2 linked regions of the Homo sapiens genome follow. The protein of the gene in region 1 interacts with the protein of each later gene in a pairwise test. Each region holds a gene or a part of one and is shown on either strand. Other genes may lie near its edges.

The links. Proteins that work in one complex are often made in the same cells at the same time.
Region 2: the proteins of LGALS7 (region 1) and TAB1 interact in binary tests that used the Homo sapiens proteins (3 or more experiments, as listed by UniProt).

The regions. Positions count from the first base shown.
Region 1 is NC_000019.10:38,770,502-38,778,497, forward strand, and holds LGALS7 (galectin-7), read right to left. Parts: upstream 3,017-7,996; 5' UTR 2,992-3,016; coding exon 2,986-2,991; intron 2,603-2,985; coding exon 2,514-2,602; intron 1,530-2,513; coding exon 1,328-1,529; intron 639-1,327; coding exon 525-638; 3' UTR 467-524; downstream 1-466. UniProt on the Homo sapiens protein: Could be involved in cell-cell and/or cell-matrix interactions necessary for normal growth control. Pro-apoptotic protein that functions intracellularly upstream of JNK activation and cytochrome c release.
Region 2 is NC_000022.11:39,409,757-39,416,779, forward strand, and holds part of TAB1 (TGF-beta-activated kinase 1 and MAP3K7-binding protein 1), read left to right. Parts: intron 1-5,249; coding exon 5,250-5,386; intron 5,387-5,743; coding exon 5,744-5,897; intron 5,898-7,023. UniProt on the Homo sapiens protein: Key adapter protein that plays an essential role in JNK and NF-kappa-B activation and proinflammatory cytokines production in response to stimulation with TLRs and cytokines.

The DNA.
Region 1 (7,996 bases):
GGCCAGGAGAGAAGAGGGTGGGAGAGATGAGCTGCAGGGGGATACGGGACCCAGGGACCCGGGATCTTATAACACGCTTTCCACCCGTAGGATTGGGGCCCACAAATGACCAGAAAGGTGGGACTCATTCGCCCCCTTTGCAGATGGACCCATGTTGGCGCCCCTTAGATCTGCAGTGGGGGCACCAGGACCTGCGGTGAGCGCCTCTGCGCCCCAAACGCCAGCAGGTCCGCCCGACCGCATTCCCAGCTGGCTTGCTTTGCACAAATGCTGCGTCAGGGCACGCCCCACACCCACTCCTTCCCAGATCGCGACCCTCACGCCTTCGCAGACAGAAAGTGTCCTAAGCACAGGCAGGCTCAGAGCCCGCCTCCGCCTCGGATTCGCTGTGTGGCCCGGAGCCAGTATCTTGGCCTCTCTGGGTCTCAGTTTGCTCATCTCAGTGAATGGGACACAGACACAGTCGCGCTGCGGGCTAACGCTTTATTTGCCAGCCAAGGCCCCGGGCCCGCCTGGGCTTCTGCTCAGAAGATCCTCACGGAGTCCAGCTGCACGTCCCCGCCCACCTCCACCAGGCGCACGCGCGCCAGCGGCAGGCGGTGGCGGAAGTGGTGGTACTGGGCGTCCCCAACCACGGCCTGCAGGGGAGGGTCGGTGGTGAGGATTCCGGAGGCCCGTGCTGGGTGGCCCTGGGGAAATCACTCATCCCCTCTGGGCCTCAGTTTCCTCACTGGGAAAATGGGGCTATTGTTCATTCTAACTCTTGCGTGAGGATCAAACGAGTTGACTGTGTGGCACAGTAAAAAGAGGCTTTTTTAGTGCTGGTAATGGATATTCTCATTTCAGCGACCATTACCCGCTATTAAAGCGCAGAGGAGGGAGGTGAATTCGCGTAAGCTGTGGGTGGTGGAGGATCTGCCGCCACTCCCACCCGCCAATCCTTGCTAGGACGAGTTCCTGGGCGCTGTTTCCAACCCATCCCTCCCCATGCCTCAAACCCCGGACCTCAGGAAGGAATGAACTGGGAGTAGGGTCTGGGATGGCGAGTCTGGGCCACGCCTTCCCGCTAGGACGCCCACCCCTTGGACACTTGGCTGGTGCTCGCCTCGTCCTGACCCTGCTGTCTCTCTGTCCCTCGGACCCAAGTGGGAGTTGTTTAGGCGAGAGAGAGGGTCGAAGGACACCCTTCTCCGCCTTGGCCACGACTTCCCTACCCCCCTCACCCCGCCCCGAACCTCCCTGCCTTCCACCAATAGCCTGGCTTTGCCCAACCCTCTGCTCCAGGGACCTAAGTCTTGGCGTCCACGCCCCTGTCGCAGAGACGCACCTTGAAGCCGTCGTCTGACGCGATGATGAGCACCTCGAAGGGCTGCCCGCGCTGGAAAGGAACGCCCGGCCCGCGCTCCTCGCGGCCCCAGGAGCCTTGCTCCTTGCTGTTGAAGACCACCTCCGACGTGTCCAGCCGGGGGTTGAAATGCAGCGCGGCATCGGAGCCCTGCTCCTCCCCGCACAGCAGGTTTACATGGAACCTGGAAGAGGAGGATGGTGGCCGTCAGGGCTCAGAAACCACCCAGACCAAGAAATGTTGAGGGTGAGGAATACCGATGTCTACAATTTACTTTGAATGAATAAGTAAATGAAATGTTGGCTGGGTGCAGTGGCTCACCCTGTAATCCCAGCACTCTGGGAGGTGGAGAAGGGAGGATCGCTTGGGCCCGGAAGTTAAAGACCAGCCTGGGCAACATAGCGAGACCCCACCTTACAAAAAAACGAAAGAACAAACAAAACATAAACCGCCCAGACCAAAGTGAAGGTCTTATGGACTGGCACTCCCCATTCCCAGAGTACCCCCAAATTAACAGGGACCTGAAGACAGGCACACACCGCAGAAGGAGAGGTAGGCGACTAATGACCAGGGAGCTTAGATTCCCAAGGCAGCCAAAATATCATGAGGCCCTTGGCAGAAACCTACCCAGACCAAACTCACTACGCTTAGGGCAGGGTGCCCTCATTTCCAAAGAGCCTGGGAGCTGCCCAGGAGGTCTGGGTGATAGCCAGGGTGCTCCTGATGCTCAGGGAACCCTCAGCTTCTACAGGACAAAGAATAATACCAGGAACCCCAGTATTTCCAGGGTACCTCAGAATCCAGAAGGCCCGAAGTTCCTTAGCCAGGAAGTCAAAGGATGGCTTGGCAAGGACTCCCAGGGTCCAGGGTGTCTCCAGGACTTGGAGTATTTCCAGAGTTCCCTGGGACTCAGACATGGAAGTCATAGGACTATATCTAGGAACCCTGAGATTACCCAGGGACCTCAAATGCTTAGGGAAACTTAGGGACCCCAGCCACAAAGGCACGGGGGCAAATACGAATACATCAGATTTGAGGTCAGAAATGGCCTCGGACTCCTAGCCTGGTGGATACAGGTGGCCTCGGGCCCCTACTTCTGGACTGCAAAAATTGGGAGTCAGCTGATCCTGAGACCTGTACCCTTTACCCCTAGGGCCTGGGGCCTCACCTGCTGGCATTGGGAGGAACCAAGCCGCGAATTCTCAGCACCGTGCCAGGGCGGATGCCCTCGGGCAGTGAGGACTTGTGGGGGACGTTCTGCAAGAGTGGGGTGCAGGGGCCACTGTGAGCCGGTGAGACCGAAGGAGGGAGGCAGAAGGTGGGTCACCCCTCAGAGGAGCCGACCAGGGCTGAGACTGGCAGAAATCAGTGGAAGAGGAAAGGGTGGCGGAGAGGCAGGAAAGAGACCAGAAACAGACAGGGAAACAGATGGGGAGAGCAACAAAGACAAACAGAAAGATCCTCAAAGAGGGCCCCAGAGGAAGCCACAAAGAGGTAGAGGGGACAGTCGGGATGGGGGTTACCCGGAGGCCACAGCCCAGGCCAGTCCGTGGCACACTCACTGCCCACTTGCTCCTTTGAAAGAGGAGCCCCCAGCCCCCTCCCTGCTTGGCCCCGCCCCGGGCCCCTGGAGCACTCACGGACATGGCTGGGACCGGGTTGGGCAGCCGTGGTGGTGGGGCCTGCTGGGGACCTTAAATAAAAGCAGGGCGGGGCTGGCCCTGATGACTCACCCCACCCCTTCCCACCCACCACCCACACCTGGCACGGACCCTGGCCCTGGGGCAAGCCCGGCGAAGCGGGAGTGGCACCTCTTCTTGGGGGCCCTGATCCCCCCATCACCCAGGGCCCGGGTGCACTGCCCCTCTCCTAGGAGCTGATAATAAGAGGGAATGTTTAATAGTAATAAACTCACAGCAGAGAAGGCTCCTTGTGCCACTGCCCCTCCACCCCTGTCTTCCCGCTGCCTGGCACACGGAGAGCCTCTATCTCATTTCATGTATTTATTTGTTAGTAATTTCTCTTATTTTATACACAGACATATTAGGTCCTGGGAGGCCAATCTGGGTGGGAACTCCAGACCCTTCTCTCCAGCTGAGAACCTCCTGCCTGGACTGATCCGTGCTGAAATCTAAGCTTCTGCCTCTGTAATGGAACAGCGGCCACAATAGGAGCACTAGTGACTGACAGGGTGGCTTCATGGGTTCACAGGGGGCCTGCCTGATCCCCTCAGCGCTGCACCCCTGGGTCCTGGAGTGTGCCCAGTTCATGGAAGTCCTCAGTCAGGAGGGGTGAAAGGAGGGGATCCACTAGGACTATGCCTGTCATTTCCAAGGCCCCTCGGCTGCCCAGGAGATGCAGGAAATCACTGATTGGGACCCCATCATTCCAACAGGGAGGAGTATGGGTCACCCCCATTGTACAGAGGAGGAGGCTGAAGCTGGGATGGGAAGCGATTTGCCAAAGGCAGGAGCGTGCAGGACCCGTTGCCCTGACCTCTGGCTCTCCTCACCTCTGCTCGCACCTCTCCTGTGGGTTCTGTCTCTGGGGCTGGCTGTCTCACTCTGTCCGTCTCTGCCCCTAACTCTGTCTACCACATATTCCTGTCCCACTTCTCTCCTTCAAGTCTCTCTTCTTCCTCCTTCCAGGACTGCTACCATCATGCCACCAAGTTTGTAGGTCAGGATGAGGTGGGTTTTGGGGTGGTGGGTGGCCTAGCATTCCATCACCACCTAGATCAAAAGCAGAGCAAGGCGGGGACCCTCCCGCCAGGCCCGAAACAGCCCCCTTGGGCCTAAGACTCTGCAAGAGAACTCAGGGTTGGGGAATTGGCTTGGTGGAGGGGCGGGTAGGGCTGAAAGATGCTTCTGAAAGGCAGGGATGGTGTGGGAGCTGAGCAGAAACCACTCCTAGCAGCCCAGCAGCCCTCCTGGACCTTTTCCACTCGCCACTCCAGCTCCTGCCCCACCCAGCAGGCTGCTGAGAGGCCTGGGCAGAGGCAGGCTGGCAGTGGAAAGTTTGGGTGGAGACAGCAGACCCAGAACCATCCTCCACCCTCTGCGTCCCAGGCCCCCAGCCTCTCGCCCCCTCCCCACACACTCCAAGGCACCAAGCTCAGGGACCAGTTCTTGGGAACATGAGCTCAGAGAGGGAGGCTAGCAGCTGCATTTCAGTAGGGGCTGCAAGCACCCCCATTCTGCAGAGGACAAAACTGAGGCTTAGACAGGGGCCACCTCTCAGTCAAGGAAGAGGCCAGCCCCTCAGCTCCAGAGGGGTCTTTGTGCCAAGGACATGTCATGGGCACGGACAGAGAGGATAGCAGGGTGTCCGGTGATCATACCACCAGCCCAGCTCAGTTAGTTCCCGAGAATGTTCCCCTGAATGGTGGACTCCATTGTTCTAACATTATTGACCATTCTAAAGAAGACACTCTCGCCTGGGCAACACAGCAAGACCTCATCACTACAAAAAATAAAAATAAAATAAAATAGCCCAGTGGGTTGGCGCACATCTGCCTGTAATTCCAGCTACTTGGGAGGCTGAGGCAGGAGAATTGCTTGAGCCCAGGAGATCAGAGGCTGCAGGGAGCTATGATCACACCACAGCTCTCCAGCCTGGGCAACACAGTGAGACCTCAGTCCACAAAAAGAAAAGACACTCCTTACATTACTTGATACATCATTCTGTACCTTGCTATTGTTTCCCAAGAACATCTTTTTATTTATTTCTATTTCTTCACTGTGGCTGGATATGACTTCACACCCAACCAACGTGCAAGTCCCAACTTGCCTTAAGTGATTGGTCAAATGGTTGCAGTCAATCTGTTACCAGTCTAAAAGGCTGGCTCCTTTCCTGTAACTGAGATATGCATCCTCGATGGGCTCTTATTCATTAGTGTTGGTTATGTTTCTCATCAGTTGTGAAACAATATTTTCTTTTGTTTTTTTTTTCTTTTGTTTTTTTTTTGAGACAGAGGCTCACCCTGTCACCCAGGCTGGAGTGCAGTGGTGCGATCTCGGCTCGCTGCAACCTCCACCTCCCGGGTTGAAGTGATTCTTTGGCCTCAGCCTCCTGAGTAGCTGGGATTACAGGCACCCACCAACATGCCTGGCTAATTTTTTTGTTTGTTTGTTTTTGGTTTTTTTTGAGACAGAGTCTTGCTCTGCCGCCCAGGCTGGAGTGCAGTGGCACCATTTCGGCTCACTGCAAGCTCCGCCTCCCTGGTTCACGCCATTCTCCTGCCTCAGCCTCCTGAGTAGCTGGGACTACAGGCTCCCGCCACCACGCCCAGCTAATTTTTTGCATTTTTGGTAGAGACGGGGTTTCACTGTATTAGCCAGGATGGTCTCGGTCTCCTGACCTCATGATCCGCCCGCCTCGGCCTCCCAAAGTGCTGGGATTACAGGCATAAGCCACCGCGCCTGGCCTAATTTTTGTATTTTTAGTAGAGACAGGGTTTCGCCATGTTGGTCAGGCTGGTCTCGAACTCCTGACCTCGTGATCTGCCCTCCTCGGCCTCCCAAAGTGTTGGGATTACAGGTGTGAGCCACTGCGCCTGGCCTGAAATAATATTTTCGTGAGCCTTTTTTCTTTTTCTTTCTCGTTTTTTGAGACAGAGTCTCGCTCTGTTGCCCAGGCAGGAGTGCAGTGGTTTGATCTTGGCTCACTGCAACCTCTGCCTTCCAGGTTCAAGTGATTCTCCTGCCTCAGCCTCCCAAGTAGCTGGGATTTCAGGTGCCTGCCACCACGCCTGGCTACTTTTTGTATTTTTAGTAGAGACGGGGTTTCACCATGTTGGCCAGACTGGCCTTGAACTCCTGACCTCAGGTGATCCACCTGCCTCAGCCTCCCAAAGTGCTGTGATTGCAAGTGTGAACCAACGCACCTGGTCACCTTTTTTCAATTTTAAATAGTTAATGTAGGCCGGGTGTGGTGGTGCACACCTGCATTCCCAGCTACTCGAGAGGCCGAGGCAGGAGAATTGCTTGAACCCAGGAGGCAGAAATTGTAGTGAGCCAAGATAGCTCCATTGCGCTTTAGCCTGGGCAAAAAGAACAAGACTCTGTCTCAAAAAGTATATATAATAATAATAATAATAATAATAATAATAATAAATGTATATATTTCTCAATAGTCTTTCTATCAAGGTATCCTTCCCATAAAATAAAAGATGCAGATATTAAAGGTATAGTTCACTGATTTTGAGAACTGTGGAGACCTATCTAACCACCTCCTCAATTAAGTTTCCTGGTGTCCAGGAAATAGTGGCCTCTCTTCTAGTTCCAGGAAGCCACTGGCCAGTGTCACTCCTGACCATTTTTTTGTTTTGTTTTGTTTTGTTTTGTTTTTGAGATGGGGGTCTCACTCTGTCACCCAGGCTGGAGTGCAGTGGTGCAGTCTCCGCTCACTGCAGCCTCAATCTTCCAAGCTTAAACCTCCTGGGCTCACCACCTCAGCCTCCCGAGTAGCTGGGGCTACAGACACACGCCACCATGCCTGGCTAATTGTGTATTTTTTGTAGAGAGAGGGTTTTACGATGTTGCCTAGGCTGGTGTTGAACTCCTGGAGTCAAGCGATCTGCCTGCCTTAGCCTCCCAAAGTGCTGGGATTACAGGCATGAGCCACTGGGCCTGGCCACTGCTGAGCATTGACTAGCCACCGAGGTTCTTTTGTCTCAAAATAAAGAAGAGGGAGTAGACTGATTTTTCTTACTTTATGCCTCTTTTAGGAAATAATTTAGATGAAAAGTAGCTAATTGCACACTAGGTGGTTGTAGAGATTTAAAATTCAGGCTCCATGAATGTCATTTGTTGGTCACATTTTGGTTATTTTTTATACACAGTGAAGGTAATTCTGGGGCTGCTTTTTGTAAATCAACATTCTGATGATGAAAATGACACTTAGAAATCTCACTTTGGCTGGGCACGGTGGCTCATGCCTATAATCCCAACACTTTGGGAGGCCGAGGCGGGCGGATCACCTGAGGTCAGGAGTTCGAGACCAGCCTGGCCAATAGGGTGAAACCCCGTCTCTACTAAAAATAGAAAAAATTAGCCGGGCATGGTGGCAGGCACCTGTAATGCCAGCTACTTGGGGGGCTGAGGCAGGAGAATCGCTTGAACCTGGGAGGCAGAGGTTGCAGTGAGCCAAGATCACGCCATTGCACTCCAGCCTGGGGGACAAGATCGAGACTTCCTCTCAAAAAAAAAAAAAAAAAGGAAAGAAATCTCACTTTGTTCTTGGCCAGGCGCAGTGGTTCACCCTGTAATCCCAGCACCTTGGGAGGCCAAGGCGGTGGATCACCTGAGGTCAGGAATTTGAGACCAGCCTGGCCAACATAGTGAAACCCTGCCTCTACTAAAAATACCAAAAAATTATATATATCTATATTAGCTGGGTGTGGTGGCACACACCTGTGATCCTAGCTACTTGGGAGGCTGAAGCAGGAGAATCACCTGAACCCGGGAGACGGAGGTTGTGGTGTGTGATCGCACCACTGCACTTGAGCCTGGGCGACAGAGCAAGACTCCATCAAAAAAAGACCAAACAAAAAAACAAAAACAAAAACAAAAAAACCCCAGAAACTCACTTTGTTCTTAAGCTTTTATGCCCATTGGAAATCTCACGACTCTATTTTTATAAATATAGTAA
Region 2 (7,023 bases), on another chromosome or scaffold:
ATTACCATGGTGTGTTTTCTTCCTAGCACGTAGCGCTGTCTGAGATTGCCTTATTATTGTATTGTGTGTTTGAATTCTCTCTCTCCCTAGAAGGGAGGCTTCAAATAAGGAGCCTCTCTGTTTTCTCTTCTGTGTCCGCAGTACCCAGAATACTGCCAGACTGTTGCAAATGCTCAGCAGATATTTATTGAAAGAATGTATGTAGTGATTTAATGTACTGTAATCACATAATATCATATGTGGGTCCGGAAGACCTAAGTTCCCATTTATGTTAAGAGAGGCATTAATTTTGCTTTAAAATGAAACAGTTCAAGATTAGAACTAGACCCAATTTTGTGTTACTGTGAAGCCGTTTTTCTTCTTCTTTTTGAGACTGAGTCTCACTCTGTCATCCAGGCTGGAGTGCAGTGGTGTGATCTCAGCTCACTGCAACCTCCACCTCCTGCATTCAAGTGATTCTCCTGCCTCAGCCTCCTGAGTAGTTGGAATTACAGGTGCGCACCACCACGCCTGGCTAATTTTTGTATTTTTAGTAGAGACAGGATTTTGCCACATTGCCCAGGCTAGTCTCAAACTCCTGACCTCAAGTGATCCACCTGCCTCAGCCTCCCCAAGTGCTGGGATTACAGGCGTGAGCCACTGTGCCAGGTCAGCAGTTTTTCTTTTGGCGTTGCTTGTACTGAAAGTGTTAAATTTAAGCCTGGTGTCATGAGGAGCTGAGCAGAATTGTTGCCATTTCTACTTTTTTTTTTTTTTAATTTAGTTGTGACATACTTGGCTCAGCTAGCACTTACTGCCATTTCATCTTCCTTTTTTTTTTCATTTCCATTAGTAGGGTTTGGTTATACTGTCTATTTTCAAAGGCTATTAGAAGGCGTTAGTAGCTTTTCAGACCTTGTAGTAAAATTGTGTTAATAAAAATAAATAAATAAAAGTCACCCAGTGAAGACATAAATAAGTGTAGAGACACACCATGTTAATGGATTAGAAGACTCAACATAGTGACAATGTCTACTTTCCCCAAATTGATCTGTAGATTTAAAGCAGTTCCAATAAAAATCCCAACAAGACTTGTGGATATAAGTAAGCTGATTCTAAAATTTATATGAAAAGGCAAAGGAACTCAAATAGCCAAAACAATTTTGAAAAAGAGCAAGAAGATAAGGAGACTCACACTAGCCAATTTAAAGACTTACTATAAAGCTACAGTAATCAAGAATGTAGTATTGGTGGAGGGGTAGACACATCGATCACAGGAACAGAATAGAGTCTAGAAGTAGACCCACACAATTCAATGGAGAAAAGCTAGTCTTTTCAACAAATGGTGTTGGAATGATTGGATATTGGAATGAAAAAAAAAATGGACCTAAACCTCCTTCCTACCTTACACAGAAATTAATTCAAAATGGATCACAGATCTAAATGTAAAATATAAAACTATAAAACTTTTAGAAAAAAACATAGGTGCTCTTTGTAACTTGGGACTGGACAGAGAGTTCTTAAACATGACTCCAAAAGCATGAACCATGAAAGAGAAAAAATGGATTAAATGGACTTCATCTAAACTAAAACCTTTGCTCTGCAAAAGACACTACTGAGTGAAATGCTAAGTTACAAATAAAAAGAACTCTCAGAACACAATAGTTAAGAAAATAACCTAATTTAAAAATAGGCAAAAAACTTGCACTTCACCAAAGAGGATGAGTTGGTGCCAAATAAACACGTGAAAGATACTCAGTGTCGTTAGCCGTTAGGAAGTGCAGATTAAAGTCACGATGAGCTACCACTACCCACCTCTTAGAATATCTAAATTCAGAAAAAGACAATACCACATGGTGGCAAGGACGTGGAGCAGCCGGAACTCAACATTGGAAATGCAAATGGTTCAGCTGCTCTGGAAAACAGTTTGGCAGGTTCTTATAAAGTTAAACATATACTTACCATATGAGCCAGCCCTGTCACTCCTAGGTATTTACCCTGGATAAATGAAAAGTTACATTCATACAAAAACCTGTACATGAATGTTTATAGCATATTTCTTCATAGTTATAAGAAACGAAACAGCCCAAATGTCCTTCAGTGGATGAATGGATAAACAAACTTTACTACATCCGAACAATGGTATATTACTCTATGAAAGAGAGAGAGAGACTGTTGATGCACACAGGCTAACAACTTGGATGAGTCTTAGAGACATAATGTTGAGTGAAAGAAGCCAGTCTCAGGAGGTCATGTTTACTGCATCATTTCATTTATGTGACATTGTGTGACATTGTTTTGTTTTGTTTTGTTTTGTTTGGAGACAGAGTCTCACTCCGTCGCCCAGGCTGGAGTGCAGTGGTGTGCAATCTCGGCTCATGGCAACCTCTGCCTCTCAGGTTCAGGTGATTCTCGTGCCTCAGCCTCTTGAGTAGCTGGAATTACAGGTGTGCGCCACCACGCCCGGCTGATTTTTGTATTTTCAGTAGAGACAGGGTTTCGCCACATTGGCCAGGCTGGTCTCAAATTCCTGGCCTCAAGTGATGAGCCCCTCTTGGCCTCCTAAAGTGCTGGGATTACAGGCGTGAGCCACTGCACCTGGCGTTTAATATGACATTCTTAAAAAGACAAAGCCATAGCAGTGGAAAATAGGTTGCCAGGGATTAGGGGAGGGAGTGCGTTGGGAGTGGAGCTGCCCTGTATCCTGAGAGTGGTGGTAGTTACACACATCTCTACATGTGTCAACATTCACAGATGTGCGTGCCCCAGAAGCCAGTTTTACTCCATGTTAATGTAAAAATAAAACAAACTCCCACACCCTGCAGAAGTTGCTCCAGGGTGCAAAATGTAGAGCTGAAGCACCAAAATAGATAAAAGCAGAATAAAACCAATTATATGAAAAAAAGTGAAGTCACTCCTGTCAGTATATAACTAAACAGAAGCTACAATTTGCCACAAAAGCTAACCACAGGCTTTTTATATATATGATTGCAAAAGCCTGTTGAAGTGGTTTCCACATCCTTTCTGGAAGACTTAACAATAACTTTTAAGAAGTTGCACACAGTATCTGTGTGTGTTTTATTTCTTTTACAGATGATTCACTGTTGGCATATAGAAATGCTACTGATTTTTGTATGTTGATTCCATATCCTGCAACTTTTTTTTTTTTTTTTTTTTTTGAGATGGAGTCTTTTTTTGAGATGGAGTCTCGCTCTGTCACCCAGGCTGGAGTGCAGTTGCACGATCTCGGCTCACTGCAAGCTCCGCCTCCCGGGTTCATGCCATTCTCCTGCCTCAGCCTCCAGAGTAGCTGGGACTACAGGCGCCCGCCACCACACCCGGCTAGTTTTTTGTATTTTTAGTAGAGATAGGGTTTCACCATGTTAGCCAGGATGGTCTCGATCTTCTGACCTCATGATCCACCTGCCTCAGCCTCCCAAAGTGCTGGGATTACAGGCTTGAGCCACCGCGCCCGGCCCATATCCTGCCACTTTACTGAATTTGTTTAATCAGTTCTAATAGTTTTTTGGTGGAATCTAGGTTTTTCCAAATATAAGATTATATCGTCTGCAAACAAGGATCATTTAACATCTTCCTTGCCAGTTTGGATGCCCTCTATTTCTTTCTCTTATCTGGTTGCTCTAGCTTGTGTTTGTTTAATATTTCAATAAAGCTTTCAATACAATTTTTTTTTTTTTGAGACAGAATCTCACTCTTGTCGCCCAGGCTAGAGTGCAGTGGCATGATCTCAGCTCGCTGCAACCTCCGACTCCTGGGTTTAAGCGATTCTCCTGCCTCAGCCTCCCCAGTAGCTGGGATTACAGGCATGCACCACCATGCCTGGCTAATTTTTTTGTGTTTTTAACAGAGACAGAGATGGGGTTTCACCAGGTTGGCTAGGCCGGTCTCAAATTTCTGACATCAAATGGTCCACCCACCTCAGCTTCCCAAAGTGCTGGGATTACGGGCGTGAGCCACTGCACCCAGCCAATACAAATTTTATTTTCCTTGAAATTGAACTGTGGTTCTCCCAGTTATTCCAGTTTGCTGTAGTTCTGCATGGTGGTTCTGGGAGTGCCGTTGTGAACAAAGCGCAGTTTTCAGGTGGGAGGCCAGATTTGGGGCAAGCTTTCAGGGAGAGGCAGGGAATTGCACCTGGGCCTTGCATCAAAGTTGTTCCTGGGGCTTAAAAAGTACAGATGCTCAGGATGTACCCTAGGGAGATCTGGGAAATTCAGAAATTGTGTTTAGGCCGGGGATGGGGCCAGGGCCTGGACCGCTGTGTGAGCGTGTTTAAAGCTCTGCAGTGATTATGCTGAACAGCCTGGTTTGAGATCCTATGGGGTAGAATGGGCATTGCAGACAGGCAGGGATGCTGGAATCAGGGTGCCGTTGGGGTACATGAGAGGGCCATCAGCCAGTCCTGGGTAGGGTCATCCTGAAGGAAGACCTCCTGGAGGTGGTGACTCCTGAGCCAAAGAGTCCCGAAGGACCCGGAGAATTGGTAGGGAAGAAGAGGGAGGGTGTTCATGTGGAGGCAAAGAGCAGGGGATGGACAGGGCTGTAGGCATTTGGGACTGGGAGGGAAGGATGTGGCAGGGGAGATGGGAGAGGACATCGGGGTGGCATGAGGATGTCCTATAAACTAGCTCATAAACTCCGACTTAAAAGCCAGTCTCAGTTACTCTCCCTGGTACTTGGAGGTCCCAGTGCCAGAGAGAGTGACTGAGGCTAGCTTATAAGTCGGAGTTTCTCCAGGCTGGGTCTTAGGTCACCTGAAAGCATCACCCATGGGGAGCGGCCTGCACTGCAGATGTCCCGGGCCCTGCCCAGATCAGTCATTCTGAGGGTGGGGCCTGCAGCCTGCAGTGTTGGTAACCAATGCTCAAGGGATTTCTTTGTAGTGTGCATTTGGAGCCAGTGCAGTAAGAGGTGGGGTCCCCAGAGTTTCCTGCCAAGAGTCTGCGACATTTGTGTGTGTTTCACTAGGTTTCATAACGGCTCACTCCTGGAGGTCATTGCTGCGCCTTACATTTGGGAATGGTGGAGTCTCAGTTTTCCTGGGAAACAAGTTTGTAGACTAGCCATAAAAACAGCAAACCCTTCTGCAGGTGTCTGTTCATACAAACATTATTGTTTTCCAGAAGGAAGTGGAACCCTCTGTGTAGGGCTGCGGGCCTGCTAGGTTTTTGTTGCAGAAGGAATAGGTGAAGTGGGGACTACCCTGCAGACGCGGTGGCGTCTCACGGCTTCCTGGTGTCCTTCCCCAGGAGCAGCAGCCAAGCTGGACAGATGACCTGCCTCTCTGCCACCTCTCTGGGGTTGGCTCAGCCTCCAACCGCAGCTACTCTGCTGATGGCAAGGGCACTGAGAGCCACCCGCCAGAGGACAGCTGGCTCAAGTTCAGGTGTGTGTGCCAGCATTTCTGTGTTGGGCCCGGGGAGTTGGTTGGTTTGCAAGCAAGGAAAGACACCGACCTTGCAGCTTTCTCGTATGGGCTTGCCAGTGACATGTGGCCCGTGAGAGGTGGCCTCTGCTGCTGTCTTGCCAAGGGCCTGCTCTGATGGGGTAGCGTGAGCATGGGGAGGAGGGTATCCCAGAATGTCATAGCCAGAGTGAAATGATGGCTAAAGCAGGGGGACCCAGGAGGGCCCCTGAAGCTGCAGCTGCTGTCGCTTTAGTCTCCCCCAATTCCTTTCCCTTTCTCCCTCCACCTCCGTGAGACCCTGGTCTCAGGCCTCCCTCTGCCCTCTCCCTCTTCCAGGAGTGAGAACAACTGCTTCCTGTATGGGGTCTTCAACGGCTATGATGGCAACCGAGTGACCAACTTCGTGGCCCAGCGGCTGTCCGCAGAGCTCCTGCTGGGCCAGCTGAATGCCGAGCACGCCGAGGCCGATGTGCGGCGTGTGCTGCTGCAGGTAATGGTGCCGGGGCCAACAGTGACCCAGCCACATCATGTCCCCCACCCCAAGGCTTGGGCCCTGCACCTCTAGCATGTTGCCAGGGTTGGTGTGAAGATCCTGCCGGCCCCTTCACCCCAGTAGAGGAGCAGCTCCCAGCGTAGGCCCCCCCACCCAACAGGAGTCCAGGACCAGCCAGCGAGCAGCAGGCCTTCAATGGCTGGCAGAGGAGGTACTGCTGGAGACGGGGGGATTTAGGGATGGGAGCTTGGAGAGAGGTGTGAGGTGGGAGCAGGGCAAGGCCTGGTAGAAATGGGGTCATTTAGAGCTACCCCTTTCTTTCCTATGTGGTCAGGTGCTCAGCCTCCAGGTGCAGGAGCCATCCCTGGGCGTCCAGGAAGGACCTTGCCTCCCCTTTCTGAGGGGCCGCCGCCCTCATTGACTGGTTCCACCTTTCTGCTTGCGCTGTTGGCAGTTTTCCTCCTGGCATCTGCTTTCAGGAGCATGTCTCAGGCCCATTTCAGATGAGAAGATGGGCTTCTGTTCCCGGAGAGGGGTGGTGCCAGCCTTTTCCTGCCCTTCACGACCTCAGGCTCCATTGCCAGTGATTCTCAGCAGATCTCACACAGGGGGAGAAGGTGTCAGTGTCACCAGTGTCCTGGGGCTGGTGGGGTTTGACAGAAGCCTCCCAGAAAGAAGTTGTAGTAATCATACGAGCTGTCATAGGCCTGGCAGTTTCTCTGAGCAGTTGCCTTGCTGAGTGCCAGGTTGGACTGTCTTACCTAACCCCTGGAACAACACTTAACCTCCGTTGTGTGAGACTGAGGGGGCCAGAGGTCACACCAGCTGGGCCTACGCCAAGCCTTTGCTCTTAGCTTCCGCACTGTCTCCTGCCTCCCAGCCGTCTGCAGTGCTGCCTCTGCAGGGTGCACACCCCTTCGAGGCTGAAGGGCTTTGTCAAAGACATTGATCTGCAGGAAGCAGCCGGTGCCTTGCAGTGCTGGGCCAGAGGCAGGACTGACATGTGGAAAGCTCCATCACACAAGAACCTGCAGTGAAGACAGCAAAGCTGCTGCTCTGATTAATAGAGGACATTTTGGCACCAGTGACAGTGGTGTTTTGAACCAGCCTTTGCCCTGTCCTG